Linked DNA regions of Homo sapiens: region 2 is linked to region 1. The links come from fine-mapping of genetic effects on gene expression. A gene starts in region 1. The other region holds a variant in brackets. All regions are shown on one strand. Distances are from middle to middle. Region 1 holds the start of TNRC6B-DT (TNRC6B divergent transcript). Region 2 has its middle 48 kb from the start of TNRC6B.

What was found.
Region 2: its variant is fine-mapped to the expression of TNRC6B-DT in testis (GTEx, PIP 0.94).

The regions. Positions count from the first base shown.
Region 1 is chr22:40,037,233-40,053,394 of GRCh38, forward strand. TNRC6B-DT (TNRC6B divergent transcript) reads right to left here and starts at 7,298. Exons shown (of 1, transcript NR_163486.1): 1 at 5,898-7,298. FAM83F (family with sequence similarity 83 member F) reads left to right here. Exons shown (of 5, transcript NM_138435.4): 5 at 1-6,302. It also overlaps a transcript of TNRC6B not described here. RefSeq lists enhancers at 6,293-6,940, 7,022-7,321, 7,632-7,751 and silencers at 8,052-8,271, 8,282-8,351, 9,638-9,856.
Region 2 is chr22:40,121,822-40,137,983 of GRCh38, forward strand. It overlaps a transcript of TNRC6B not described here. Among named protein-coding and RNA genes, the nearest start is that of TNRC6B, 48 kb to the right of the region's middle. The variant C/A (reference allele first, on the strand shown) is at 8,647.

The DNA.
Region 1 (16,162 bases):
GTGGTGGCACATGCCTGTAATCCCAGCTACTCGGGAGGCTGAGGCGTAGGAATTGCTTAAACCTGGGAGGCGGAGGTTGCAGTGAGCTGAGATCATGCCACTGCACTTCAGCCTGGGCAACAGAGCTAGACTCCATCTCAAAAACAAACAAACAAAAAAACAAAAGCAAAAACCAGTCTTAGCTCACAGGCTGTGCCAAAACAGGCAGTGGGCTGGATTTGGTCCTCAAGCCTGGGCTTGCTGACCTCTGGCCTAGGACACCTCTCCTTTATGCCTCCGCTCCCAACACGGACTCTCAACTCTCATGTTTACCTTGTCATTGTTCTGTCAAGAGGAATTCACTAGTCTCACTCCTCCAACCAGACCGCTGCCACTAAGGCTTCTTCTGAACAGAAATTCTGGATTTGTTCTCACCCATTTCATAAATGTACATAAGCACCCATCAGGTGCCAAGCCCTGTGCTGAGATGCCTGCAGAGCCCAGAGTTTTCACCAACTTTTTTTTTAAGAGATGGGGGTCTCTGTTGCCAGGTTGGAGTGCAATGACATAATCATAACTCACCGCAACCTCAAACTCCTAGGTTCAGGTGATCCTCCCGCCTCAGCCTCCCAAGTAGCTGGGACTACAGGCATGCACCACCCTGCCCAGCTAATTAAAAAAAAAACTTTAGGGATGGGGTCTTGCTATGTTGTCTAGGCTGGTCTCTAACTCCTGGGCTCAAGTGATCCTCCCACCTCAGCCTCCCAAGTAGCTGGGCTTACAGATGTGAGCCACTGCACCTGCTCAACATTTAATTTTTTCATTCATTCATTCGTTCATTCATTTGTTCAAACGAACTTATTGAGAACTTACTGTGTTCCAGGCACTGTGATAAGATAGACCTGGCCTTTACCTTCAAATGTTCAGAACATGGTTAGGAAGATGGATACTGGGAGGCAAGTGTTCTGATGGGAAAGCACAGCATGTAAAGAAGCCCAGAGGAGGCACTTAACCTGGGGGAGAAGAACAGGGTAGGCTTCCTGGAGGAGGAGGTAATCTCTGAGCCGATACCTGAGGAGTGAATGGAGGAGGGGACAATGAGGCAAGGCATTCCAGGGAAAGGTCCAGAGCCTAGACAGAACTCTTTTAGGAGAATTATGAGAATCACAATTATCGAGGACACAGTGAAGACTCAGATAACTCAAATATAGGTTTTGCCCGCAAAGCCTTCCTGTCTGGTGGGTGAGACAGTCTACAGCAAGCTGCTCCAAGGATATGGAGAAAAAAGTTTTTCCTCTGGCCTTGTAGGATTGGTTATTACTGAGCCTGGAGTACGCAAAGGCCAGCGAGTGCTCCTAAGGCAGGGAGGGGGCTGCCTTCACTATGGGTGCTCAGGAAATCTGCCAGGGGAAGGGAGATGTGGGCCTGCCTCGGCTGCAGAAACCCCTCAGAGGAGGAGGAGGGGCTTGAACTGAGCTTTGAAGAAAGTGTAGACTTGGGGACAGGCAGAGGAAGAGGGGGCATCATAGGCAGCAGAAACCACATGGACAAACTCTCTGCCGGAGAATGGGCATGGCCGGGCTGAGGGGTCCCTGGACAGGAACCAGCCTTCCCTATGCACCTGCACCCGTGAGTCTCACAACAGCCCCAACAGGCAAGTGTTATTTTCCTCAATTCTACCAATTAAAAACTGACCTTGGGCAACTGCTTAACCTATCTCTGCCTTACTTTCTTCATCTGTATCTACCTCAGAAAGTTACTATGAGGACTGAATAAGCTCATACATATACAATGCTTGGAGCAGAGGCTGGTACTAGAGCTGGCTTCATGGGCATGAAACCTGTGAACACAGAACCCCATGCTTTCATTTTCCACTTAGTCCTGCCTGGCATAGTATGCAGTTTTTTTAATTTGAGATGGAGTCTCCCTTTGTTGCCCAGGCTTGAGTGCAGTGGCGCGATCTCAGCTCACTGCAACCTCCACCTCCCAGGTTGAAGCAGTTCTCCTGCCTCAGCCTCCTGAGTAGCTGGGATTACAGGTGCGCGCCACCATACCCAGCTAATTTTTGTATTTTTAGTAGAGATGAGGTTTTGCCATTTTGGCCAGCCTGGTCTTGAACCTCTGACTTCCATGATCCACCTGCCTCTGCCTCCCAAAGTGCTGGGAGGATTACAGGCATGAACCACTACGCCTGGCCTGGTATGTGGGTTAAAATGTTAGGTTTTATCATTATCTTAGGTGGAGAATAACAAATCCGATTCAATATATTCATTTTAGAAACGAGGAAACTGAAGCTTAGATAGTTTGTGTGACTTGCAAAAAGTCACGCAGCAAACAAGCTGCAGAATGAAGGGTGGAGATGGAGAGATAGAATTCTCATCTTAGAGGTGAAAGTAGGATAATGACCCAGCTGAGCTTGCTGAGTCCTGCGAGCGTCGCACGCCCCCAGAGACAACATAAGGAGAGAAGTGCAGACAGATTCCTTTGAAGGAGCTTAGAGAAAGAGATGGTAGGGAAAAGAGCATGAACAGTTGTAGAGGTAGGAGGAAAGCTGGCTATTTGGGGAAGCAAAGAAAAGATTCTCAGAGTAAAACGTATTGGTGAAGCCATGGAAACAAGGACTGAGAAAGTCTCTTGGATCTTGGCCACAAAAAGGTTATAGATGAGCTTAGAGAAATGAATTTCAGTAGAGTTAGGGCTAGAAGCCAGGTTCAGAGAGAGAAAACGAGAGAGCATTCCTGGTGGTGGAGATGGCCGCAGGCCATTATTTAAAAAGCTAGGATAAGAAAATAGAGAAGAAAGGGAAGGAAGCTATTTGAAGGGAGTGGGAGAAAAGCCAGATCTCAGTTGGGACGTGGAGGAAGGACCACCAGAGGCAGTAATTTAGCCGGAAAGAGGTGTATTTCTTTCCTTGAGTTTATAGGGGGTAAAGAGGATGGGGCTGAGATACTAAAGACTACGAGGACAACTGTTCATTGAGGGCTGGTCATCTCCCCAGCTGCACTGTGGGGTTCCCAAGTCAGACATCCCAGAGGCAATATAGCAGCGTGGACAAGAGCTTACTCGTTGGAGTCAGACCGCCTAGGTTCAACGATGGGTTAGTTAGCCCTTCAGTGCCTCCATTTTCCTATCTAGAAAATGTGGATAACAATGGTTGTTGTGAAGATTAACAGCCATAATCCACGTAAAGCCCTCAGTACAGTGTATGACACACAGCAAGTGTCCACCAAAGGGTAGTTATTATTAACCATAATCCTGGTTCTCTTGTGAGCTGCCTCCTGTGTGTCTAGCATTGGCCAGCACACATGAGGGGGTCCAGTGTTTGCTGCTTAACTAAGTAGCTTCTCAGGAAGTGTGGTCATAAAAAATGATAGGTGATTTAGAAGGTGAGACAGACACAAGGGATGTGTTGCACAGTAAATGCTCCCAGACATGCAATAAATGCTTATAAGCATGCCCTCTGTAATCAGCCCTCTTTAGAGAGTTTCCCTGCCTCATTGCTCTTGGTCTTTGGCAATGGCTACACCCACTGCCCAAGCAAGCAGTATCAGCTGTCAGCTGTCCCCTTGTCTTTTGGATCAGATTCCTTTACAGGGATCTTCCCATTGTTATAAGCTTCAAGAATTGGAGAATGCTTAATGAACACTTCCAAATTCTTCATAGCTATGAGGGGCCAGTGCAAAGGGCGGAAGGAGTTCTTCTGTGTCACAGAAATTAGAGCTGGAGCAGATCCAGCTTGCTATCCCCCCTTCCCCCAGCTTGTGGGTTATTGCAGAATTGTTCACAAAAATTCCCATTGCCTTGGAATTTGTCCAAGCCGAGGGCAGGGATCACAACACAACCTCTCAAGGGAAAAAAGGAAGGCCTGTTGCTTGAGATGGCTCAGAGCACTTTTGGTAGCCAGCCAAGGCAGCTATCACTCATGAAATCTGCCTTCCCCTCCAGCAAAAAGCCAACTGTATAGAACACCACATATAGAGCGCTAAGAATAGCACAGCGCTCCAAGAACATAGTGCACTTGGCCTGCATACAAGTGTGCAGGGCTTAACGAGTCTTTTTACTCTGAAAGCTGGGTGGGTTGGAACAAACAAACAGAAAAATATTTTCCCCAAGTAGCATGCAGAGAGGAAATGAGAGCAAGCACAAGAGAGCACCCTGGCATAGCATTCTCTGACCTGGGCTGCCTTTTCAGGGTATGAGTTGATTCCGCAGGCACCAAGGCATGCCTGTAAGCCCTACAGGGCAGACGCCCTCACCCCAATCATTGGCTTAACATTCACACCAGGCTGAGTAAGCCCCAAAAGTCCTGCCATTGGCTCTGACAGGAATTGAAACCCATCTTCTCCACAATAAATATTTGATTGACAGATTGGCTTCCTTCCTATAAGTATAGAAAGCGAGGGCAGGTTCCATCCAAAGCCGCAGTTCTGGGTGATGAGAGCTCTGAGAGCCCAGAAAAGACCCTGAACCACATCCCACTGTTTGTTGGAAGAAGAAACTCATTTGTGGGTCTGTTCATAAAAGAGTCTGGGAAGATAGTCTCCTTAACAGTGTCTGGATGTAACAGACTATGGGCGGCTTTTACTTTATAACTTTCTATATTGTCTGAAATACAGAATATTAAATATTGAGTTAATATTATATTTACTCAATGTTACTTTTTTTTTTTTTGAGACAGGGTCTTGCTCTATTGCCCAGGCTGGAGTGCAGTGGTGTGGCTCACTGCAGCCTTGAACTCCCAGGCTCAAGCAATCCTCCCACCTCAGCATCCCAAGTAGCTGGGACTGTAGGCGCAGGCCACCATGCGCAACTATTTATTTTCTTTCTTTTTGTAGAAATGGGCTCTGCCTGTGTTGCTCTAGCTAGTCTCAAGCTCCTGGCCTCAAGCAATCCTTCCGCCTTGGCCTCTCAAATTGCTGGGATTACAAGCATAAGCCAATGTGCCTGGCCTCAATGTTACTTTTATGATCAGAAAAACGGCCATCTTATTTGGAAATTATTTTCCTATTCTCAAGTGGGCAAATAGGAGAAGGTTTCAGGCATTTGTTTTGTCTCTGGGAGGGAAGGCACAATGAGGTGGAGTGGACAAATTGCTGAGGCCTTTATGGACAAAGATTCTAAGAAGAACAGGCTTTGGCCATCTCTGGATATTCCCATTCTGCTCCCTGCCACCAGAGAGCAAATGTCGTAGGTCACCACACATCACCAGTCTCTTGCCTAGCTAACCGTAACTCATTCTTTAGTTCTCCTTGAAGGTGTCACTTCTTCCAGGAAGCCATTTCTGTCCCTCCCGAGATGGAGTCCCATGTCCCTACCATTTGCTTCCAGGGCACCTTCTCACAGCACTGCATCATGGTTATCTGCTTATCTGCTGGACACCCCTACTCGACTGAGGTCCTTGAAGGAAGAGAGAGTGTATCACTCATCTGCATAGCCTTTGTAACTTAGTAAAAGTGCCTGACATGCTCACTAAACATTTACTGAGTAATTATTTATTTGGGGGCCTTTTACGATCAGAACAATGTGAAGGACACAAAGATGAAAAAGAAACCATCTGCTTCAAGGTACTTACAACTGAAATGTATCAAACAATTACCCAGAAAGTCAAGCACCAACTTAAGTGCTAAAATAGGGGTCCAAGCAACCAACTTTGAAGATTAGGAAGGTTTTAGATTCTGAATGTTTCTCATTCATTGTGTTTTTGAGTTCAGAATCCCCATACTGGAAGGCTAATATGGGGTATGTGCATACAATTTTAAGGACTCACGTTCTTACAACCTATATTAGAATTTGACGCACGATCTTTCTTCTGTCCTTCTTGCAGTTGCCCTAGGAATACATGCCACTTACTCTTAATTGACGTTTATGAAATACCTTGGCTTCATTTGCTGAAAGGCTCTAAGTGTTGAGCATTGTTACTATGTTACAATGGTTGTTTTATTATTAAAGCAGTGCCAAGGAGGTTACACAACAGCTTGGATCAGGAAGTGAAACAAGGGCGGTGATCCCACTGAAGCTACAGGGGATGGGGATTTGGGACGGTAAAATGTTAATTACCCAAGATGGAATGTGGGCTAGAGTCCAGCGTTGTGCTCCTGGAGATCATTTCGGTCGCAAAAGCTCACTGGCAATGGGTCCTAAGCGTCCTGCCCTCCTCTGGCTGAAATGTTGGATTCACTTCGATGAATGCTGCTATAGGGAAAGAACCCAGTGGCCACCAGCCAGGAGCACACGTCTTGCTCAGCATCAACTATCCTGGAAGATTTCCAGGAGCTGAAGGGCTGTTCTCTTTGCATGCAATAAATTATTCATTTCTAAGACGATTTATTCTGTCTCTCTCTTTAGACTTGATTTCTCCTAGTTTTCCAGCTCTTGAGGACTCTCTCCAAAGAATGAGTTGTAGATGGTTGGTCAGGGGTTGCGAGTGGTGCCTAGGCTTCGCATAAAAGGAGGCAGAAATGTCTACCTTAAAGGGGAGAGGAATGGGTCCTGGGGAGGAAGATGTGGTGGAGGCAATGACAACCTTTCCATAGTAAGTCCCCAACAAAGTCACTTCTAGAAACTGACTGAAGACTTTGAGTTCCAAATGAAACGTTTTTAAGATGCTAGGTTGGCTGACAAGTACATCGTCTAAGGTGGAGGCACTAAAGCATAATAAAAAGAGTGAAGTCTCTGCAGTTTGACCCAGGACCAGATGCCAGGCCCACCAACGACTCTGTATCTGGATGACCTTGGGCAAGTTTTCTAAGCTCTCGCCAGCCTTAATTTCCCATCTATAAAAACTGGATACTGCATTACTCCCAGGTTTAACCAGATAATGTTTGTGAAGAAAGCAGCCCAATACTTGGCACAAAATAGGCAAGGGAGTCACTATTATCGTCAACTACTGGCCAAACAACCAGAGTTGACCCCAAATCCCCAGTAAACAATTAACCGTAGCAGAGCGAATCCGGATCTGACGCACCTATTTGCCCAATAAGGTGCCAGGAAATAACACAGTGGAGTCAAACCAATGGTATTAGCCCTTGTTGATGGACGGGCTTTCTTGCTGTTCCACCAATAGCTTGAAGATTTGACTGGGGAGTGACATCCTGACAGTCCAATGACGCACAACCAGCCCACACTCAGCACTTCGGAGGGGATAAATCAAGGAGCCGGCACGTATGGATTCCGTTATAGGGCAGTACTGGTTGGAGAGAGGAGCTTAGGGAAACAGCGCCGAGGCAAGGCACTAATGAGCTAAAAATAAAGAAAAAAGACGATGGTTGCGCCAAGCGACCTCGGCCGCCATCATGCTCTAATTTCCCCTGAGTCTCTCTGGGTCCTCGACCGAGGAAGCGGCCTCTGGGATGCTGAGGGGGTGTGTCCCCACATGATTGGCTCAGGCAGCTCAGCCAATCCTAGCTCGTTAAACGGGAAGCACTTAACCAATGAGGGGCGAAGGCAGCAACGAGGAATTGGAGGGGCGGAACGACAGCTTGACGGGCACAAAAGCCAGCCAGTGAGAGCCGGAAGCATCCTCCCTGCGGCCAATGGAGTGGGGCTCTGGGCGGGCCCCCGAGTGTTTGTGTTGTGGTTTTGGGGGAGGGATGCGGAGGGGAAAGTTTGTTTATTTTGTTTTTAGTTTTTGGGGTCCCCGTGCTGCTGCAAGGCGAAACGGGAGGGAGTGACCCCTGCGCCCCTCAGTCCCCCCTACGACGTCGCCTCCATAGTCTGCGGAGAAGCGGAGACTGCGCGCCTCGCCTCACAGCGAAACGCCGCGCACTCGGAGCCGGCACGGCTCGGCGGTGAGTGAGGTGCGGCGGCCGCGCCGTCCTTCCCCTCCCCCGCGCCCCGCCGGGACGGAGCGGGGCGGCCGGGGGTCGGCGAGGGCGCCCCCGGGGGCGCGCGGCGCGGCCCGGGGCGGTGAGCGGAGGCGCGGCGTGTGCGTGTCCTCGCGAGGGAGCGCGCGTGGGGCGGGGAGCGGGCCGGGGAGGGGGCGTGAGCGCGCGCGGGGCTGGTGCGGCCGGCGGCGCTGAGCGCGCGCTCCGCGGGAGCGGGCGCCGCCGAGATTTGAGTCGAGGGGCGGGGAGGGACTCGGGGCGACGTCCGGCGCGCGGGCCGGGGCGCCCCGAACGGCCGGGCAGGCACTGGCGGGCGCGCGCGCGGCTCCGGGCGTCACGCGCCAGCAGGTGTGAGCTGGGGGAGGGCTTCCGGGTGGGCTGGCCCGGCCGTCGAGTTCGCTTCCCGTCTCCGGGGGGCCTCGGCGCGGGGACACCTTCCCGGCCCGCGGAGGCGCGTCCGCCCCTGGCTGGCGGTGGCAGAGGGAGGCGTCAGGCCTCGGATCCTCGGGTCCCTGCGCAGCGTCCCGGCCTGTGTGCAGGACCTGCGTGACAAGGTGAATGCGTTCCACACCCCTCGCCAGGGCCCTGCGTGTGCGGCCACTTGGGGAGGCGGCTCAGACTCTGGACAAGGAAACGAGGGGCACGGAGAGTGTTTTTACACCTTCCCGTGGTCCGGTGCCCTTCAGTTCCAGACTACCGGTTTATTCGGCTGTAGAGGCTGGACATCCGATCCAGCGAGACACGCTGTAGTGGTTAAAGACGTCCAGTAACGGTCACCTCTAGTCAAGCGCCTTAAGGACCAGCTTATTCTGAATTCTTTGGAATTCAGGTTACCAGCCTGGGACTTTAAGTTCGTGCTTTCTCATGTGTTTTGGCTGTTTTATTACTTTTTAGCATCAGTGCTAGAGATTGAACGAGAGGATGGTGAATTTCAAGTTGGTCATTTGTATTATAATTTAAGCAAAATTATACAAAATTGGTCAAAGATATTTCTTCATAGTGAATAAAACAAGCCAAGAATCAGTGAATGAAACATTAGTGCCCCCACCAACAGTTAAGTATATATATAAAGTGTGTAGAAATGATAGACATTAGCATTTTGTGAAAGTTTACTAATAGAGGTTACTTCTCTCTTCGCTGTGGGAGATTTCAGTAGTATAAGGTTTCTCTTGATTTGGAGAATCATCAGTGATCTTGGCTTCGAAAGTACAGATGTGTTTTGGGTAGTGTTGTGTAAATGCCTCTTATAGAGCGGAACTTTTAGCGCATTGTCTCTACAGCGCGCAGCATTGCTGTAGGCAGGTAGTGGGAGGGCTGTGTAGTGCCCACTTGCACGAAGGCACACTCACCAATATCCAGAATACAAATCAGACTGGCTTGTCCCACGTGGGACGTGGTGATGATGATAATAATACTTTTATATTTTCTTAGTTCTTTACTATTATTAAGGGCTTATCCCAAACACCATTATTTGAGCAGAGTGGTTTCTGATAGGAATTCCGTAGCTGCTTTTCTGTGGTAACATATAAATGTCATGCCCTTGAAAAAGATTTCCCTCATTCAAATGGAAGCACTTAAATTTTTTTTTTTTTTTTTGAGACAGAGTCTCAATTTTTTTTTTTTTTTTTGAGACAGAGTCTCAAAGATTGTGCCAGGCTGGAGTGTAGTGGCACAATCTCGGCTCACTGCAAGCTCCGCCTCCCGGGTTCACACCATTCTCCTGCCTCAGCCTCCCGAGTAGCTGGGACTACAGGCGCCCGCCACCACGCCCGGCTAATTTTTTTGTATTTTTAGTAGAGACGGCGTTTCACCATGTTAGCCAGGATGGTCTCGATCTCCTGACTTCATGATCCGCCCGCCTCGGCCTCCCAAAGTGCTGGGATTACAGGCGTGAGCCACCGCGCCCGGCCTTAAAAATGTTTTCAAGTCGGAGCAATACCACTTGTTGAAATGGCAGTAATAATATTAGCTAACATTTATTGTATGCTTACTCTATGCCAGCCTTTTGACATCTTTTCCCCTAATTCTTAGCCCAAGCCTGTGGGGTAGGTATCGTTACTATACTATGAATGAGAAAAGGGATCTCCAGGAGCCACACAGCTATGCAGTTCCAGGGCATAGGTTTAGTCTCAACGTCTGTCTGGTTTGAGAGCCTACGCGTGTTTCATTTTGCCTCCTCCTTGAATTATCAGAGGGAGAAAGGGCACTGAAAAGTAGAGAGGAATAGAAAAGGAGAATACCACTGATGATTAGGTTGCCCATACCTAACTTAAGAATTTAAATTAGGCTGGGCGCGATGGCTCACGCCTGTAATCCCAGCACTTTGGGAGACCGAGGCAGGTGGATCACTTGAGGTCAGGAGTTGGAGACCAGCGTGGCCAACATGGTGAAACCCCGTCTCTACTAAAAATACAAAAAATTAGCCGGGCGTGGTGGTGGGCGCCTGTAATCCCAGCTACTTAGGAAACCGAGGCAGGAGAATCGCTTGAACCCGGGAGGCGGAGGTTGCAGTGAGCCGAGATTGTGCCATTGCACTCCAATCTGGGCAACAAGAGCGAAATTCAGTCTCCAAGAAAAAAAAAAAGTTTACATTAAGCTCATTCTTGGCTTTTAGAAATTAATAACATTTTTGCAAAAGTACATCTTATTTCTTCCCTGTTTAATTTTTATAAAGATTGTAAAAATACATTTTAGCTCAAGAGTTCAAGGCTTTCAGAGCCCTTTGTGCAGATTGCTGCTCCAGTCCCGGGCTATTGTGTATTGTGATAAATTGTGTGCTCTTCCAGGGACTGTTACTCATTTTTCTATCCAGCACAGTGCTTGGCACATAGTGGGAACACAGAAAACGTTAGTTGACTGACATTTGATTCTAAGGAGCAGAATCAAAGTGTAGATTTCGGATTCATTTTAGTCGTTGAATTGTGCAGTTTTAGTTTAACAGGACAATAAGAAAATGACTAGTTCATGTGCAAAATGCGCGTTTTGAAAAAATACTTAAATGGAGCAACTCATGGGGTCTTGGAAAATTCTGTCAGTTTGCTGGATCTCTCCGTTCTACTATCATGTTTGAGCTTCTGTTCCTCTCACTTCCAGAGTTCTGAAAGAGCAGTCTATGCTGGCTGCTTCCCTTTCTTCACGTCTTCACTACACAGTCATTCTTTAAACTTTTGCAGCCAGATTGTTCCAAGGTTGCCAATTACCTAGTGGGTAAATTTCCCACATTGGCCGGGCGTGGTGGCTCACGCCTGTAATACCAGCACTTTTGGGAGGCCGAGTCAGGTGGATCACGAGGTCAGGAGATCAAGACCATTCTGGCCAATATGGTGAAACCCCGTCTCTACTAAAAATACAAAAAAATTAGCCGGGTGTGGCGGCGCATGCCTGTAGTCCCAGTTACTCGGGAGCCTGACGCAGGAGAATTGCTTGAACCAAGGAGGCGGAGGCTGCAGTGACCTGAGATCGCGCCACTGCACTCCAGCCTGGGCAACAGAGCGAGGCTCCGTCTCAAAAAAAAAAAAAAAAAAATTTCCAAAACTCTCTCTTCAGGTTTCATCCTTTTCTGTCTCCCTGCAGCAGTCAATCCTTTTTGACAATTCCTATCCATTTAAACATTTTTTTAAAAATAACATACAGTAATATTGACTTTTTATGTGTGTTTACAGTTCTGTGAATGTTCACACATGAATGTACACAGTCAGGATCAGAACGGTTCCATCACTCCAAAAAAAACTCCCTTGTCCCATCCCTTTGTATCACGGCTTTCTCTTTTCTTTTTCCTTCCTTCCTTCCTTCCTTCTATCCATCCATCCATCTTTCTTGTCTTTCTGACAGAGTTTCGCTCTGTCGCCCAGGCTGGAGTGAAGTGGCATGATCTCGGCTCACCACAACCTCTGCCCCGCTCCCCCCTCCCAACTTCACTGGGTTCAAGCGATTCTCCTGCCTCAGCCTCCCAAGTAGCTGGGATTATAGGCGTGCATCACCACGCCCAGCTAATTTTTGTATTTTTAGTACAAAGAGAATAGAAGGTAACATTTGTTCATTTATTTAAAACATTTATACACTGCTGGCTGGGCGCGGTGGCTAACACCTGTAATCCCAGCACTTTGGGAGGCTGAGGCGGGTGGATCACGAGGTCAGGAGTTCAAAACCAGCCTGGCCGGTCACTGTGTTAGCCAGGATGGTCTCGAACTCCCGACCTTAGGGATTTCACCATGTTGGCCAGGCTGGTCTCAAACTCCCACCTCAGCCTCCCAAAGTGCTAGGACACGGATGAGCCACCGTGCCCAGTCAGCTTTCTTAACTCTCTGCCTTTTCTTAAGTTTTTCTAACATCGTACTGTCCTCCTTCTTACCTTTTGGGGCGTCGTTCCTTTCCTGACTTCTATCCCGGAGATAAACACTAAGGTCAATTACTAAGGGCTCCTTTTATTGTTTTATTTTTCTCTTTTTCTAATCTTCATAAGTGTTATTTATGAGACTTAACTGTCACCTCTGTATATGCTAGCCTGCATATCCATGCCTCACCTCTCTTCCATACTCCAAAACAAAATCCATATTTACCTGCTGGCATTCTTTTTGTTTTGTTTTTGAGATGGAGTCTCGCTCTGTCGCCCAGGCTAGAGTGCAGTGGTGTGATTTTGGCTCGCTGCAACTTCTGCCTTCCGGGTTTAAGTGATTCTCCTGCCTTAGCCTCCCAAGTAGCTGGGATTGCAGGCGCACACCACCAAATCTGGCTAATTTTTGTATTATTAGTAGAGACAGCATTTCACCATGTTGGCCAGGCTGATCTGGAACTCCTGACCTCAGGTGATCTGCCCACCTCAGCCTCCCAAAGTGCTGAGATTACAGGCATGAGCCACCGCGCCCGGCTGGCATTCTTTGCTACTTCTTCGTACTCAGTATGTTGAAAGTCAAGTAATGCCTCCCATTAGTATTAGTTTCTATTATCGTTAGTTTCTATTAATTATTATTCTATAATTTATAATTATAGTTATTATTAGTGTTTTTCAGTGGTGCCATCATCCTCTCAAGTTTGCAACCCTGGAGCATTTGGAGGGCCATATAATAAACTCTGTTATTTCAAACCTGGAATCCTGCTACTTAGTTACGATACTGGCTGCTGCCCCTTTGCTACCAAGCCAGCCCGGATCCAGCGACCTGAGAGGAGCATGGGTAGTTGGAGCACTTAGAACCCCTTTAGGATTGTAGCATTTCCTTGTGGTCAAAACCCTTCTATGACTTCCCATTGCACTCAGGCCGGTTTGGGATTTTACTTTTTATCCTATGAGGCTCTGTGTGTTCTGGCCTCCCCAACCTTCTCTCACTTCTTTTACACCCCATCCTCCTCTCTGAGCATCTTAACTGCAAGGTCCTTCTTTCAGTTCCTCAAATTGCCCAAGCCTTTTCCGGCCTTAAGGCTTTTGTTTTTGTATACACCTGCACCACTCTCTTGGCTTGGGCTGTCCTTGCTCTGCTCCCCACTAGCTTTTACCCAGCTAACTTCAGGTTCAGATTAAATTGTCACCTCAGAAAGGCCCTCCTTTATGCTCTCGTCCCACTACCCCCATCCACCCTCAGTTAAGACTGGCAGAGCTCCTGTTATTTTTTCATAGCTGTCACCACAATTCATGATTCAGGACCATGTCTGTTTTGGTCCTGAATCTCAGTGTATCTCCAGAGCCTGGCCAAGTGTCAGGCATACAACAGACTTCCAGTAAATATTTGTAGGCTGTGTTGTAAGTCTGGGCTTTTGCTTTTGTTATTTATTGCTGTCCTGTAGTTTTTTTGTTTTTGGGTTTTTTTTTTTTTTGAGACAGAGTCTCGCTCTGTTGCCCAGGCTGGAGTGTAGTGGCGTGATCTCGGCTCACTGCAACGTCTGCCTCCTGGGTTCAAGCAATTCTTCTGCCTCAGCCTCTCGAGTAGCTAGGACTACAGGTGCGCACCACCACACCTGGCTAATTTTTGTATTTTTAGTAAAGATGGGGTTTCACCATATTAGCCAGGCTGGTCTTGGACTCCTGACCTTGTGATCCACCTGCCTCAGCCTCCCAAAGTGCTGGGATTACAGGCGTGAGCCACCGCACCCAGCCTATCCTGTAGTTTCTGGTAGCCTTGCCTACGTCCTCAGTGTCTCCTCTGGGACTTGATCTCACTGTTGGAAGTCTTGCCACAGTGAGATAGATTCCAAAATTGCTGAAGAGGACACCAATCCTGTTCTGAATTGTACCTCTGCATGGAATCCCTTATCACTAAGCCAGACTAGATCTAAACTAAACTGTGCTAAGCTCACTAAGTCCCACAAGTATTGCACCTTGGTTGTCCAGGCTGGGGTCAGCACTTGCAGCTGTTATTCTTCCGTATTTCAACCTGCTCTTGATTTCTTACTCCTCCCTCCACCCAGCATGGGGCTTCTAAAGACGTTGTATACTTTCCAGCTGAGCCTACTTACCCTTTGACATTTTGCAGCCTGTTGACATTGACAACTGCCTCCAGTGTCTCACCCCTACAGATTGCCCCCACACTGATCTTCCTGAAACAGTGCTTTGTTTATGTTTCCTGCTCCCTCCCAAATCGACCACAGGCACTACAGTTTGAAAGCCTTCAATGGTGTTTCATTGCCTAGAGGGTTTAAATGCTTTAGCTTGTTATTTAAAGTTTCTGGACTAGCACTGTCCAATAGAAATAGAATGTAAGCCACAAATATGAGCCACATATGTATAGATTTTCTAGTAGCTACATTAAAAAAGTAGAAAGGGGTGAAATTGATTTTTATAGCATTTTATTGACTTCAGTATATCCAAAATATTAACATTTAAATAGGTAATTGGTAAAAATTATTAATGAGATACTTTACATTCTTTTTTCTAGTTAAGCCTTTGAAATCTGGAGTGTATTTTTCGCTCATAGACATCTCAGTTCAGAGTAACCACATTTCAAGTGCTCAGTAGCCACATGTGGCTAGTGGCTACCATGTTGGACAGCACAACTCTAAACCATGCTCTCCACATAGTTGAAGGGCCATACCTGGGTACTTCCAGCCACTGGTCTTTTGGCTACTATTCCCCTCACCTAGAACCAGCTTCCTTATCCAAATGTGCCAACCTTCCTTGCCAAGAAACACAAGGGGACCCCAAGATCAAAGGGGGACCCTAAGATTAAAATTTAAGTTCTCGTCATATTCTCTGAAAACTTTTAACAATTTTTTTGGTGTCATTGTTTTTTTCATATAGTGATTACTTACGGTCTTTACCAATTTGCGTTATAATCAGAGGTAATATTACAATATTTAACAACAGATAAAGCATGAACCAATAAGAATCGGTGTCTGATGAATTAGAATTGATGGCAGCTGTACACAGCCTCAGTGTTCTCATTTGTGTGTACCTGCTTAATAGCAACGCTGTGTATTGTATTTTTTTTTTTTTTTTTTTTTTTTTTTGTTGAGGCAGGGTCTTACTCTGTCACCCAGGCCGGAGTGCAGTGGCATAAACATGGCTCATTGCAACCTCCATCTCCTGGGCTCAAGCAGTCCTCCCACCTCAGCCTCCTGAACAGCTGGAACTACAGACACGCACCTCCACACCTGGCTCATGTTTTGTAGAGATGAGGTCTCACTATGTTGCCCAGGCTGGTCTGGATCTCCCAGGCTCAAGCAATCTGCCTGCCTTAGCCTCCCAAAGTGCTGGGATTACAGGCGTGAGCCACCATGTCTGGCCTGTGTATTGTTGACTTCCCCATAGGACTGAGTTTCTTGAAGGCAGGCATTTATCTTACCCGCTTTGTATCCCTAGAACAGTTTCTGACCAGTTGTGTAGTAGTAGGCAGTGTGTAAATGTTTTAAATAAATGAACAAATGTTACCTTCTATTCTCTTTTATTCTTTTTATGTGCTATGCTTTGTCTTTCTAGTTAGAAACTGAAATGTAAGTCCTTTGAGTACAGAGATCATGAATTACGAAGGTGTATATGGTATATTTGCTTGGTTGTCTTCATGGGAGCATTTCACCATCCTCTGAATGTCGATTTGTGCTTTCTTTTTCCCCCAAACCACCTTATTGAGGTATGACTGACATACTAAAAGCTTTAGGTATTTAACATATACCACTCGATGTGTTTGGAGATTTTCTTTAAAAAAAAAAAAAAAAAACTATGTTTAGATATTGTTATGGATTTTCAGGTTGGGTCATTAATGAAGTTTGACAGTTTTAATAAGACTGACTTTCTTTGTGGTTTATAAACAGGCTCCGAAAGCAGCTTCAAAAGTAGAGCTCCAAAATAGTTCCATAATTATTGTAATTAATGCAAGTCTTCCAGAATTCGGGCAGAGTTGGAGAGTCTCTGAATTAGGAGTCAAAAGTCCTGG
Region 2 (16,162 bases), 85 kb after region 1:
CAAAGTTGCCATAACTACAGTCGCTGCTAAGGTCAAAATACTGTGTGCCTATGGTTTATAAACCTCTAATTCAGCCTCAATAGTTACAAGCTAGTGTATAACTATAAAAACAACAGTAAAAAGCCTAATATAAGCTTCTACAAGAAAATACTGTGCCCCCTCATTAAAGTCCAAGGCCCAAAGTCCTGGCCTTAACAGAAGCCTCAAAAATGCCACATGTATTTTACTCCCTTGAATTTTAGTTCTTGTCTATTTATCAAAATTTTGGTGCCACGCACCAGAAGTTAGGGTCTTTGAGACCCAATAAATAGCACTCTCCTTCCCTTGACTGGGCTCTCTATATTTTGGTCTCCCAAATGTCCTCCTTTTTAAAAGCTTATATGCAGCGAGAAATTGTTACACTTTTCATTTTTCCCTCCTTTTTAAAAGGAGGGCATTTGGGAGACCAAAATACTGTTTCTCTGACTAATAAAGCGGTATTGGACCGCCCATTCCCGCTGCCACTGCTATTATGTGTGCCACTGGGCAGAGGGGCCGGGCTTAAAAAAAAAAGCTGTATTGGAGAATGTGACACATCTACAGGCCAGTGAACTTAACACTGAACTTCATAATAACACAGACTGACCTACTCACGGGTAGTTGTGAGGGTCCTGTGTTTATGGGTGGAGGAGAAGAGGAGAATGCAGGCTTCCTGGGGCAGCTGGTTTCCAGAAGGAAGGAAAAGACAGGGCTGAGCTCCACCTACGTTGTTTCTCCTTCCAAACTCACCATTAAAGTAAGATCCTGTTACCTTCTCTGGAGTGGATTGTGTGCAGGTGGAGAGGAGCCAAAGGTGGAAACTCAGGAGCCAGGAAGAAGCATTCCCCTTTCACAGCATGTCCAAAGGGAAATGGAGATCACTGGGGATCGGACCCTGAAAGAATAAGAATTCAGAGTAGAGAATGTCTTGTGAGTTGGTCATCTCCATGTACTTATTAAGTACCTATTATGTATCAAGTGCAAATACATTGTCAGTGAATCCTCAGAATAACTACTATTCCCAAGTTTTGGTAGGGAAGCTGAGACTGAGACAAATTGAGTAAATTCCCTCAAGGTCACACATCCGTAAGCATTCGGGTCTGTTGGACTCTTCAGTGACGGCCACAGCTCCCCCTCCAGGTTCCAGTCACTGCCCCTTCCGCTTCAGGTCTAGCAATAGTAAGGTTCCCAATTGTTGTCAGCCACTGGGTGGTTCAGTAGCCTTTGTTGGTTTCCCTATTTCCATTCTAACATGTTGGAAAACTGAGGGCTGTAGTAGTAGAGAAGGTAAGACTTGGGCCTTGGTAGGATCTTATTGGGACACGATGGATTTTAAGAAGTGAGTGGAGGGGCAGAAGTCTTGGTTAAAGCCTTGGGTAGAGGGTGATAGCATGGGGGAGGAGAGATGACAGTGTGCAGTGTTGGGGGATAGGGAGGAGGAGTCGGTAACGGGAAATAGCAGTGATTGTCAGAGAAGGAAAAAACTAATTTAGCCAGGCAAGTCAAGCTAGAAAGAGACTTAAGAAAAATAGAACAGCCAAATAGGAGAATCCAGAAAGGATGAAAGTAAAAAGATTAAAGCTGAAGGAGAAGCCAGCAAGTTGAGAGCAGTGCCCTTTCATAGAAGAAACAACCACTGCCATCCCTTCTTCCTCTCCCGACCTCCTGTCTCCAGTCAGTGCCTCCCACTGGCTTAGCCCAGCCAGCAGCCAGAAGATAAGGAGCCCAATGATGGTGTCCCCTGGGGCACACAGTTAGGCGGAGAATGGAGCGTGGGTCTGGAGGAAGCAGACAGTACAGCACCAGACCAAGGAGTGTGCTGAGCACAGGCCTGCAAGCATGAATGGAGTTCCAAGGAGTTTTTCTGGTTCAGCTATGCCTATAATGCATCATCTGGTTCAGCTATGCCTATAATGAAACAGAGAAATGCAGTCTCTGTTTCAGTGAAGTAGGAGAACTTAAAGACATCTGTGAAGCAAATTACACATAAAATCTTTCTGGATAAGTTATTGAGTTTTTCCAATGCTATCAACCTAATTTTTATAGAAAGAGAACTTTTTTTTTTTTTTTTTGCACAACTGTGATAAATAGGTGAGGGACAAAATCAACTAGAGAAAGCCTATTTTCACTTGCTGTGAGCATCCCTCATGTGTTTTACAGAGAGGATGGGCAATGTTGATTAAGCTGGGAGCAAGTGAATGGATATCAATTGAGAGCTTCTACTGTACTGATTTTACACTTCACATCACATAAATATGCATTTGTTCCCAACAAGACCTTGCTAGGTGGGTGAGCAAAGTAGATATTTTGGTAACCCCTTCCCACCCAGTAGATGAGGCAACAGCTTCCTGGAAGTGCCTTCTTAGCCTTGAGTCTTGGCTGGTTATAGAGAAGCCTACACCAAAACAGATCATCAAGCGTTGTGCATTAATAGATTTTTCTTGCACACACAAAAAACATACACTACCAGCATCTTTTTACCTTTTTTTTTTTTTTTTTTTGAGACAGGGTCTCACTCTGTTGCCAAGGCTGGAGTGCAGTGGTGTGATCACAGCTCACTGCAGCCTTGACCTCCTGGACTCAACCAGTCCTCCCACCTCAGCCTCTCAAGTAGCTGGGCCCACATACATGTGTCACCACGCCTGGCTAATTTTTGTATTTTGGGTAGAGGTGGGGTTTCGCCCCCAGGCTGGTCTTGAACGCGTTAGCTCAAGCCATCCACCTGCCTCAGCCTCCCAAATTGCTGGGATTATAGGCATGAGCCACTGCACCTGGCCTTTTTTAGTTTTTATGTTTTGTAGCTATGAGCTTTAGAGTAGCTGATAGGTTTGTAAATATTCATACCTGTATTATAATGGAGATTTGTGTCATTTGAATAATTATTCCTCAATAGGGCCAGGAGCGGTGGCTCACGCCTGTAATCCCAGCACTTTGGGAGTCTGAGGCGGTCGGATCACGAGGTCAGGAGTTCAAGACCAGTCTATCCAACATAGTGAAACCCTGTCTCTACTAAAAATACAAAAATCGGCCGGGTGTGGTGGCAGGCGCCTGTAGTCCCAGCTACTTGGGAGACTGAGGCAGGAGCATCGCTTGAACCCAGGAGGTGGAGGTTGCAGTGAGCCAAACTCTCACCACTGCACTGCAGCCTGGGCGACACAGCAAGACTGTGTCTCAAAAAAAAAAAAAATATTCCTCAATAATTACATATGTAATGAATTCTTGAAAATGTTGCATAAATTTTTAGTAGTTTCCTTTTGGTACATTTTAATTCATAAAATTTTAACAAACTTTTTCTTGACTCATTTTATTCTTTGAGGAAAACTTAATTACTTTTTACTGTCTTGCCCTATAAATAGTCTCATATAAAAATAAATGAACTGACATTTAGTTTATTAAGCACATTTCCTAAAAATGAAAAGTGGGGCCAGCCATTATAGTGTACTTTAATTTCAGTTATAAAGAAAGCAGGAACGTTATTCATAAATTATAAGCCCGGGAAACCCTGCCAATTCCAATAGCCTTAGCCTAATACCCAGGCACTGTGACCTGCAGGGGCGGAACAACAGGTGCGCCGCTTTGCTCACTGCCATACTTTCTTGCAGGTCAGTGTCTGCTGTAAGAATTTCACCACCACCTCTGCCAAAAGCCAAATAAAATAGGGAAAGAAATCTAGAGCTATTAATATCCCAATGCTGGAAACCTTTCCTATCTACCCTTCTCCCCCAAGATGGGAAACATTCCCTCCCTGCTTCTCTCCCTCCCTTTCTTACCTTTAAGATGCATGTGCATAGACACACACACACACACAAAGTTACTCAAAGTTACTTCACAGTATCTGTGGCCTTATTGAGAGAATTTCAGTCTAAACCTTTGAAAAAAAAATTTTTTTGCCCTGAATTCCTTACATACTTTTTTCTTCTCTCTTCTTTTAGGCAGTATTTTTGTGTTTCTGCAGAGTTTTGCACAAAATCTGTTCCCATGCAAACCAATGAGGGAGAAGTATCGGAAGAAAGCAGTTCCAAGGTCAGTAAATTACTGAAAGGTACAGTTTGGGTAGAAATTGAACAGTAGAGGCTGTGGATGAGTAGAATGGGTATTTCATTTTACATGACTGTAAAAATTCGATTGAGTTAAATTAGAACCTAACATAAGATTGAGAAATATTTTTTCTTTTCAGTATACTTTTTAATCCTATATGCTAATTTAAAACAATTTTACTGAACTACAGAGAACTTTATAATTTATTTTTAGAACACTAATACTATGTCTTTTAAAGTTTGTTACGAAAGTTACTATAGGCTTATAAAAAATCAGAAGTATATAAAGTCAGGAGTCAAAGCTGGTCCCCTGTTCCTGCTGCACAGAGGCAGTCACTGATAATTTTTAGGTGTTTTTCTATTACAAATTTTATTTTATTTTATTTTAGATTTAGAGGTACACGTGCAGGTTTGTTGCATGAGTATGTTGTGTGATGCTGAGGCTTGGGGTACAAGTGATTCCATCACTCAGGTAGTGAGCATAGTACCCAAGAGCTTGTCTTTGAACCCTTGTTCCCTTCCCTCCCTCTCCCTTTTGGAGTCCCCAGTGTCCACCGTTTCCATCTTTATGTCCACATGTACCCAGTGTTTAGCTCCCACTTATAAGTGAGAACATGCAGCATTTGGTTTTCTGTTTCTGTGTTAATTCATTTAGGATAATGGCCTTCAGCTGTATCCCTGTTGCTACAAAGGACGTTATTTAATTTTTTTTTTTTTTTTTTTTTTTTTTTTTAGACTGGGCCTGGCTCTATTGCCCAGGCTGGAGTGCAGTCATACGATCTTGACTCATTGCAGCCTCTGCCACCCAGGCTCAAACCATCCTCCCACCTCAGCCTCCTGAGTAGCTGGGACTACAGGTGCACACCACCAAACCTGGCTAATTTTTGTATTTTTTGTAGAGACGGGGTCTCACTTTGTTGTCCAGGCTGGTCTCACACTTCTGATCTCAAGCACTCCACCCACCTAGGTCTTCCAAAGTACTGGGATTACAGGCATGAGCCACCATGCCTGGATGATTTAATTCTTTTTTATGGCTACATATTATAAATTTTTAAATGGTAATTTGTTTGCTTTGTTTTTTCAATCTAGAGCCTAAGGAGTGTTATCATCATCAAATCTTGTATGTAAATATATATAATAAATAAAATAAAAATAAATATATATTAATCCTATATATAAATCCTATATATAAATATTTATCTATATTTTTGTCTATATCTGGCTCCATGTGCTGATTTTCCTTGGCTGCTTCTTAACATAGTTACATGAGACCCTTAGTATTACTTTTACTTCCCTCTCTGTCCATTCAGAATTGTCTGTAGCTCTTCCTGGGAGCTCTGAAAACAACTCTTTCCATTTCTTTCTGAATGCCCCCTCTGCGGGGCTATGATCTAGTCCGTGGCTTGGGTGGAGGGACAGATGTCATCCTGTCCTCTTAGTTTTCCTTTCCCATATCACCAGATTTCTTTCTTCTTTCCGTAGCTAAAGCAGAAGCATATAGGTTTTCATCAGACTCATTTAGACCCTGAATCTGATGTAGGGTTAGTCAGAGCCTGTGAGGTACACACACGATCTAGGAATCTCCCTCACACACACACACACAGAGGCACACATACCCAGGACACCCAAGATACACACACCCCAGAATTTCTGAGGTACATATACACCCTTCCTCAAGATCCTAATTTACTAATTGATAGTGAAATATAATGTTAAGGAAGATTGGGGCTCATGCCTGCAATCCCAGCACTTTGGGAGTCCGAGGTGGGCAGATTGCTTGAGCTCAAGACTTCGAGACCAGCCTAGGCAACATGACAAAACCCTGTCTCCAAAAAATACAAAAATTAGTTGGGCATGGTGGTGCATGCCTGCAGTCCCAGCTACTCAGGAGGCTGAGGTAGGAGGATCATTTGTACCCAGGGCTGTTGACGCTGCAGTGAGCTGTGATCATGCCACTGCACTCCAGCCTGGGCAGCAAAGCCAGACCCTGCCTCAAAAAAAAGGAAGATTGGATTTCTGGCTAGTACATTTTCTCCCTGGAAAGAGAAGGTATAATTGGGAGATTGCTTGGTGAACATGTAATTAGACTGGTATAGAATATATTACTGTGCCATAAACTCAGTTTTCAACTTCTTTTTGGAAAAATAAATGACTAGCTTTCTTGATTTTTCAATTACTGAATAGTTTATCAGTTCAGAATGAATTAGACTCAAGAATAAGAGAACATTCTTTTTATACTTGCACTAAGTGGATGCTTCTGTTATAAATTAGATTATAACTTCAACTTCATCAGCCTTAGTTTAACTCAGGCTCTTATGTTTTTCCTCCTGATGTTTGCTTTTGTTTAAAATCTTATATTTGGAGGCTGATCTCATCTCGCAGGGGTCAGTCCATTCTCCTCCTCCGAGGGTGTAAATCAATCAATCAATAAAATCTTATATTTGGAATGATTTAATGTATGGCTGGAATTTGTCATTTTGCTGTGGTTACATAGTTTGTGGATGTCTGTTAACAGAAGGCCATTAGGAAAGGTAGTAGGTTTTGAGGAAAAGTAGAGAATTTTTTACCAAAAAGTGATTTTCAGCTGAATTTATTTTTGTTCAATATATTTTTTTTGAGACTGGATCTTTCTCTGTCACCAAGTCTGGAGTGTGGTGGTATGATCACGGCTCACGGCTCACGGCTCACGGCTCACGGCTCACAGCTCACAGCTCACAGCTCACTGCAGCCTCAACCACCCAGCCTCAAGCAATTCTCCCACCTCAGCCTCCCAAGTAGCTGGGACCACAGGTGTGTGCCACCACACCTGGCTCTCTTTTTTTTTTTGGTAGAGACAGAGTCTTGCTGTGTTGCCCAGGCTGGTCTCGAACTTCTGGGCTCAAGTGATTCTCCTGCCGCAGTCTCCCAAAGTGCTGGAATTATAGGTGTAAGCCACTGCGCCTGGCCTTCAATAAATAATTATTAAGCACGTGTTATCATGGGATACAACAGTGAACCAAAAATACATGGTTCCTACTCTCAAGGCGGTTTCATTTTAGTGGGAGACATGAATAAATATAAATAAAGATAATAATTATAAATGATGGTAAGTACTATGAAAAAAATAAAGCCATGTCATGCAGGGCAGCTGGGAGGAAGAGCGTAGCTAGTCAAGGAAGGTCTCTCTGAGACGGGGACATTTCAGCTGAAGCTAATGGGCAAGGGAGCCAGCTGTGTGGAGAGCTGAAGCAACAGTGTTCTAGACACAGGAAACAGCTGCAAAAGCCCTTGGCCTCTTCTAAGAACTCTCAGAAACCTGTGGGCCAAGTGTGACAGGAGGTTAGAGAGAGAGACAGAGACCTTGCAAGACCTCAGAGGCCACAGTGTGCAACGTGGACCTATTCTCCATGCCTAGGGCAGCCATTGAAGGCTGTTCACTCGAGGAGTGATGTGATGTGTAGGATTTGCATTTTAAGAGGTGGCTCTGTCTGCTGTCTGGACAGTGGATTGGAAAGAGGTAAGAGTGGAAGCAGGGAGCCTGGTGAGAAGGCACGTGCAGCTGTTCGGGTAGGACTACATTCATGGGTGTTACTGGAAGTGGAGGAAAGACAGACTTGAGGTGTATTTTGGCGCCAAAACTGATGTGACTCGAGGATGGATTGAGATCCTTTTGCATCATAGAAATCAAAAGGGGAATTTCAAGAGAAAGGCTCACTCAGTAACTTCAGATGCTGCCAAGAATCAAGGAGGTTGACAAGTGAGAAAAGACACCTGGATTTGTTTAAGAACTAATTAAAGAGAAAGGATATGAGAAAACTTTCTAGGGGGTGATGGAGATGTTCTGTGTCTGATAGGGGTGCAATTGTTTATAATTACAATAAAAATGGTTACAGTGTAGGTATGTTTTATGTGGTGAAACTGACAATCAAATGGAGTGGAGAATACATGGAAGTATAGATGAAGCAGGAATGGCAGAATGTTGGCAACTATTGAAGTGTTGTGATGGGTACATAGGAGTTTATTTGTATTTACTTTGTACATGTTTTAAATTTTCTATGATAGTTTCTAAAAAGAACTTACTGGTGTTCAAGGGTGCCATTTAATTGGAGTAGGAGGTGCAGAAACCAAATTTTATGGGTTAAAGAGAAATTAAATGATTTTTAAAAATGAGTTATGACTATAGTCCACCACCCAATTTTAGGACATTTGGAAATAAATGGAAGAGAGAACAATGAGGAGGAGGATTAAGTTCAAGTGAAAGATTTTTTTTAAATGGAAGAGGACTATGCATGTTTGAGAAAAGAGGGAAGAAATGGGTTGAGGAAGGCAGAGTGCAGTTAGAAAAAGGTTTCTCAGATTCCCAGGCTTAACGGGCCTCGTACTGCAGTAATGCCTGAGCTCAGGCCCAAATCCTGCTCTTCTGACTCTTGTTTAATGGCGGAGGGAGTTTTGGAGGAGGAAAGAAAGAAAGGAAGTGGGTTCAGCTTTTCTTTGTATTGCCTTCGAAAGAGAAGTCATTGTAGTTGGTAGAGTGTAGAGTACACAGTTGAAGACTTGAAATGACAAGTTTTGATTTCCTATTAAGAGGAAAGGCTTGGAATTGCAGTTGTAG[C/A]GAAGGTGCTAAGAATAGTTAACAAATGAATTGGCCGGGCGCGGTGGCTCACGCCTGTAATCCCAGCACTTTGGGAGGCCGAGGCGGGCGGATCACGAGGTCAGGAGATCCAGACTATCCTGGCTAACACGGTGAAACTCCGTCTCTACTAAAAATGCAAAAAAAAAAAATTAGCCGGGCGAGGTGGCGGATGCCTGTAGTCCCCCGCGGGAGGCTGAGGCAGGAAAATGGCGTGAACCCGGGAGGTGGAGCTTGCAGTGAGCCAAGATTGCGCCGCTGCACTCCAGCCTGGGCGACAGGGAGACTCCGTCTAAAAAAAAAAAAAAAAAAAAAAAATAGTTAACAAATGAATAAACGGTCAATATGGTTTACAAAATATCCAGGTAAGTTGTGCAAGTATAGATCAGGAGCCCTTATGGATGGGCAGGGTTGGTATAGAAGTCTTTTTTTTTGAGACAGAGTCTCGCTCTGTTGCCCAGGCTGGAGTGCAGTGGTGCGATCTCGGGTCACTGCAAGCTCCGCCTCCCGGGTTCACGCCATTCTCCTGCCTCAGCCTCCCGAGTAGCTGGGACTTGACAGGCGCCTGCCGCCACGCCCGGATAATTTTTTGCCCAGATAATTTTTTGTATTTTTTAGTAGAGACGGGGTTTCAGCGTGTTAGCCAGGAAGGTCTCGATCTCCTGACCTCGTGATCCGCCCGCCTCAGCCTCCCAAAGTGCTGGGATTACAGGCTGAGCCACTGTGCCCAGCGCGGTATAGAAGTCTTATTGGAGGAAGTGAATTTTGCTGTTCCTCTTGAAGAGTGCTCTCTGAAACTGTGCAGCATCTTCCGTAACATTTTCTTGGAGAGAGATGTTTATTGAAGTTCAGAGATGGATTAGGATTATATATTCTTCGGGAGTTGGGAATTGTAGACTTTGACCTCTTGAGTTTAGGGATTTTTTTTTTTTTCTCTGCCAGAAAGATATAAAGCAGGTGATGGTTTCTAAAAGACTGCTGTAAACAGATTATAGATCATTCCTGAATTATGCACAAGCATAATTCCTTATTTTTGCCTCCTTTCCTCCCCTCCTCTCTCCTGATTAATTCAGCACATATTTATTGAGCACCTACTGTGTGCTAGGAACTGTGTTGGGTGTTGATACACAGAATTGACTCCTTAAACTATTATTTATTCTTTGTTTTAATTATTGGAGCTCCAACCACTTAAAGTGGAGGCAGGAAGAAAGAATGTTAAATTTCACATCAGTTTAGAACGAGCTTTTTTTCCCTGAATGGTCACCAGATTGCAATTTTGTATGACCTAACAAATTTCTCAAAGAGAGTTCTGCTATTGTTGTGAAAGCTTCTATTGTAAATGCTGAAGGAAGACAAGTTGACAGAGTTTTTGTTAATGTAAAACTTCAGATGCCTCTGAACATATCCTTTGGAGGAACAGTGAATATTTCTTACATTTTTCCCAAGGACCACTTCAGGGCTTATTTAATTTTTCTGCTGTGTATGTGAGAGATAAAATTGAATCAAATTAACAGAGTTACCCATGGATCTGTCTTATTGTTCCATATTTTTAGAGGTTAAATATGAAAATTACCTTCTGTGACTGGGTGCAGTGGCTCACGCCTGTAATCCCAGCAGTTTGGGAGGCCGAGGCAGGCAGATGACTTGAGGTCAGGAGTTTGAGACTAGCCTGGCCAACATAGCAAAACCCCATCTCTACTAAAAATACAAAAATTAGCTGGGCCTGTTAGTGTGCACCTGTAATCCCAGCTGTGCCTGTAATCCCAGCTACTCGGGAGGCTGAGGCAGGAGAATCAGTTGAACCCAGGAGGCAGAGGTTGCAGTGAGCCAAGATCACACCACTGCACTCCAGCCTGGGTGACAGTGTGAAACTCCATCTCAATAAAGACGAGACGAGACGGGACGGGACGGGACGGAGCCAGGAGGCAGAGGTTGCAGTGAGCCAAGATCACACCACGGCACTCCAGCCTGGGTGACAGTGTGAAACTCCATCTCAATAAAGGCGAGGCGAGGGCGAGGGCGAGGGCGAGGGGCCTGTAGTCCCAGCTACTTGGGAGGCTGAGGCAGGAGAATTGCTTGAACATGGGAGGCAGAGGTTGCAGTGAGCCAAGATCATGCCCCTGTACTCCAGCCTGGGCAACAGAGTGAGACTCCATCTCAAAAAAAAAAAAAAAAAGGCTGGGCGCAGTGGCTCAAGCTTGTAATCCCAGCACTTAGGGAGGCCAAGGCGGGTGGATCACGAGGTCAGGAGATCGAGACCATCCTGGCTAACACAGTGAAACGCCATCTCTACTAAAAATACAAAAAAATTAGCCGAGCATGGTGGCAGGCGCCTGTAGTCCCAGCTACTTGGGAGGCTGAGGCAGGAGAATGGCGTGAACCTGGAAGGCGGAGCTTGCAGTGAGCCAAGATCGCGCCACTGCACTCCAGCCTGGGGGACAGAGCAAGACTCTGTCTCAAAAAAAAAAAAAAAAAAAAAAAAAAATATATATATATATATATATATTCTGTAAAATCCGGAGGCACAGATATGTATATGCTTCATTGGCCTGATTCCCGTAGAGAGAAATTCATGTGACCTATTTTATTTGGCATTTATGTGCTTATATTATCACACTGATCTGAAAACAGATACTACTATTTTATCTGTCACATGTGGCTTTGACTGGTTAAATGTAATGCTCATTTTTCTTAGTGTCTGGTTTCGCTGTCACATAGTGGAACTGTACATTACTGGGAGGTTTCAGCTCTATTGTGGATTTACTGACACATGCTGAACTAAGCTGTTTATTTGTATCATCTCTTCTTTTTATTGAGATATTATCAAAAATGACATACTTTTATAGTCATTCAGTTTTTTTAATGCAACAAACATTTATTGGGCACCTACTAGTTGCTGATGTCGTAGGTACAGGCATGCAAAGTGATTTATGTAAGACATGGTCTCTGCATTTCGGGCACTTTTAACCTAGTTGAGGGAGGTAACCATACCATACAGGCTATGATACCGATATTAAATATGTGCCTAGGGCAAAGCAATGAATTCTTTCTGGAAGGAAGTCCACAATGGAGAGGGAACACTTGAACTGGGCATTGTAGAAAGACGGGTTTCATGGTTTTTATTGGTTTGTTGTTGAATGGGTGAGGGGGAGAAGGCTATTATATGCAGAGGGAACTGTGTATAGCATATAAGGGGTAATGTGCCGGGCACGGTGGCTCATGCCTGTAATCCCAGCACTTTGGGAGGCCGAGGCGAGCGGATCACCTGAGGTTGGGAGTTCGAGACCAGCCTGACCGACATGGAGAAACCCTGTCTCTACTGAAAATACAAAAAATTAGCCAGGCATGGTGGCATGTGCCTGTAATCCCAGCTTCTCGGGAGGCTGAGGCAGGAGAAGCACTTGAACCCAGGAGGCGGAGGTTGTGGTGAGCCGAGACCGTGACATTGTACTCCAGCCTGGGCAACAAGAGCAAAGCTCCGTCTCAAAAAAAAAAAAAAAAAAAAAAAAAAACAGGTAATATGCGATGGGAGATGGTGAAAAATTTGATTGTGTTTCAGATATCTTGATGTCTGTTACATCACATCAAAACTTAGTGGTTTAAAACCACCATTGTAACCTCCTGAGTGGAATAATTGCAAAAAGTTTAGTAAATACTCTATCCTCAAGGATGTGGAGCATAACTTTCCACTCTTAAAGTGTGGATTCACACAGTGGAGAACCCTAAAGTCAGGCAATCAAGTCAACATCAACAGTGATAAGTCATTTTTATACTTTGTACCCTTGGTACGATGTGAGGAAATGGCACTTCAATTTCTAGTTGTCTTCCCTAAAACCCATTATCCCAGTCTAATCATGAGAAAAACATCAGACAAATTCCACTAGCGGAATGTTCTGCAGAATACCTGATCAGCACTCCTGAAAACTCAAGGAAAACTGAGAAAAATCTGAGGAACTGTCACAGCCAAGAGACAGCTAAGGAGACACAATGACAATGTAATGTGGTATTCTGGATGGGATCCTGGAACATTAGGTAAAAACTAAGCAAATTTAATAAACTATGGACTTTAGTTAATGTATCGGGTTGGGGGGCTACGGGAGGGATAGCATTAGGAGAAATACCTAATGTAGGTGATGGGTTGATGGGTGCAGCAAACCACCATGGCACATGTATACCTATGTAACAAACCTGCATGTTCTGCACGTGTATCCCAGAACTTAAAGTTTAATAAATAAATAATAATGTATCAATATTGGTTCATGAATTGTGACAGATATACTAAGGTAACATGTTACTAACAGCAGAAACTGCATCCGGATAAATGGACTATCTTCCTAATTTTTCTGTAAATCTAAACCTGTTCTAAAAAATAAAGTTTTCATATATTTTTAAGACTCCATTACCAAGACAGCATTTTATTTCTCATAATTCTGTGTTTTCCTGGGCTCACTAGGGCAGTTCTTCTCTTCCAAAGTGGTATTGGCTGGAGTTACAGTCATCTGGAGGCCCAATTGGCCAGAAATGCCTGAAAGGGCCCACTCACATGGCTGGCAGTTGGTATTGGCTGTCAGCTAGGAGACCAACTTGAGGCTGTTGACCCAAGGTTCTCCTCCATATGACCTCTGCATGCCTTGGGTTTCTCACAGCATGGTGGCAGGGATTCAGGAGGGAGCATTCCAACTGTGCAGGAGCTGCAGACACCTTAAGCCCAGCCTTAGAAGTCACCCAGCTTTGCTTCTTCCCCAGTCTGTTGAATTAAAGCAAGTCACAGGACCATCCCAGACTCAAGGGGAGGAGAAACAGACCCCACCTTTCAGTGGGAAGACTGACCTTAAATATGAGATCATCTTTCATCCACCATACAGCGACTAGAGTGTTGGGTGCCAGGGAGACGGGGGCATGGCAGAGCCCAGATTATCTTAGGCTGAAGAGTTTCAAGAATAGACCACAGATTAAACAAATTTATTTTATTTTATTTTTATTTTAGCAACCTTATTGACACCTTGAAGTAGCAAATTTTTTTTTGTTTAATAGAAACATGTTCTTGCTCTTTTGCCCAAGCTGTAGAGCAGTGATGTGATGATGGCTTGCTGAAACCTTGAATTTAATGGGCTCAAGTGATCTTCCCACCTCAGCCTCCGGAATAGCTGAGACTACAGGTGTGCCACCATGCCTGGCTAGTTTTTCTTACTTTTTCTGTAGAGACTGGGTCTCACTATGTTGGCCAGGCTGGTCTCAAACTTCTGACTCAAGTGATCCTCCTGCCTCGGCCTCCCAAAGTGCTGAGATTACAGATGTGAGCCACTGCAGCCAACCAAAGCAGCAGACTTTTAAAGCAGGGAAATGAGATGTACATTTTACTTTATGATTTGCTGTGTTAGGATAACTGGTGTTGATGTAGAGAGGGTAGGTAGACTAGAATATCTGTATCTTTACATTCAGCTTCTCTAAAAGAAAAGAGGATTTAATAGGCCTACTTCAGCCTGTGGACTGATTTCCATTGGGTCCTGAGTTCTCAGGAGTTAGGAGAGCAAGAACCGTAGGTGAGGAAGTAGATCCCATAGAAGGTCAAATGAATTGGGAGGCGAGGACTGGCATTTCTGGCACGGTCTCCAGACCTGATGTAATCTTTCTTTATGGTTCTTAACAAAGATAGATTGGAATGCTTAAACTCTGTAGCCATTTCTCACTTTAAATGTAATGTAACTTAGGTCGATATTCTAAATGAGTTGGTGTTAGCTTACTAGTTGTAGAGATTCTGTAGCTCTAGACTTGAAATGTTCATTTTTTAAGTGAAATCTAAAACAGATATAGTAAAATTTGTTATAGAGCTGAGCCGTTGGGTGTCTGTGATCATATTCTCTGTACCTTTGTGTATGTTTATCTTGTGTGTGTGTGTGTGTGTGTGTGTGTGTGTATACTTTTTTTTTTGAGGCAGAGTGTTGCTCTGTCGCGTAGGCTGGAGTATAGTAGCCTGAACACAGCTCATTGCAGCCTGAACCTCTTGGGCTCCAAGGGATCCTCCTGCCTCAGCCTCCCGTGTAGCTGGGACCATAGATGCATGCCACCACACCGAGCTAAATTTTTTTTTTTTAACTCTTTTTGTAGAGACATGGTCTCACTATGTTGCCTAGGCTGGTGTTGAACTCCTGGGCTCAAGAGATCCTCCCACCTTAGCCTCCGAAAGTGTTGAGATTACAGGCATGAGCCACCATGCCTGGCCTGTATATTTAAATATTTATAATAAAACAATAAAAGTAAGCTCTAGGGTTTCAAATTTATAGCTATATATTTAAGTACCCACGTGTTTCTACTAATTACTGCAAATAAATATTTACTGAATCAGGAAGCTAACATTTTAGCTATTAATATAACATTATCATTATCAAAGGCAGCAAGTAAACGTAGTCTTTGTCTACAGAGAATAAAGTCATCTGTTGATTTGCTTAACATTAAAGATAGTTAAATAGGGTAACTTAGACATAAAATACACAGTAGTATTTGAATGATCTGTTTTAATTGGTTTCATTGACAAAGAACTGCAAGATCTGTTCTTAATATTAAGTGCTCATTTAGTCAAGAAAAGTGTTACACAGAAGTATTTTAGGAACTTGGTAATTTGTTTTGTTTGTGTTTTGGTAGGGGATGCAGAGAAAAAAGATTTACCCATTGTTTAATAAAGTCTTTTGCTTTCCAGAGCTTAGGATATCTCTACCTTAGGCTGGATCTGCTTTAGCAAAAGTGATAACAAGATTTCATGGATTTTGGTATTCTGAGAGCAGATTGGAAAAGCAAACATGCAGCGCAAGTGCTTTCCCCATTTGTTTACGTAGCTGGTAAGCAACATCATTTGGGTTGAACTCCAGGCCTGTCTGACTCCAGAGGCCATAGTAGTTCAATACTCCATCCTGGACAAGTTACACGGCAGAGTAATCAGCTGTTTCCTTATGTCAGATAAACTTACTGGAAAAGTCAGTTTATAGAACTATAGACTTCTATAGGTACAGAAGAATCCCTAAGAAGGGAGAGGGTGCTTTGTGCGTATTCAGAGCCACACATTTCTCCGGAGAAGAGATGGTTAGAGCATTGAGAGATGTCTGTGAGACCCTGGAGATGGAGTTAGAAGCAGAACCCCTGCAGGCAATAGGGAACTATTGAAGGATGTTAAGCAGGGGAGAAACCTGATGATCTGATGCATATTTTAGAAAGATGGACCTGCCGGGCCTGGTGGCCCACACCTATAATCCCAGCACTTTGGGAGGCCGAGGCGGGTGGATTACTTGAGGTCAGGAGTTCCAGACCAGCCTGGCCAACATGGTGAAACCGCATCTCTACTAAAAATACAAAAATTAGCCGGGCATGGTGGCAGGCGCCTGTAATCCTAGCTACTTGGGAGGCTGAGGCAGGAAAATCGCTTGAATTGGGAGGCAGAGGTTGCAGTGAGCCGAGATCACACCACCACACTCCAGCCTGGACAACAAAGCTAGACTGTATCTCA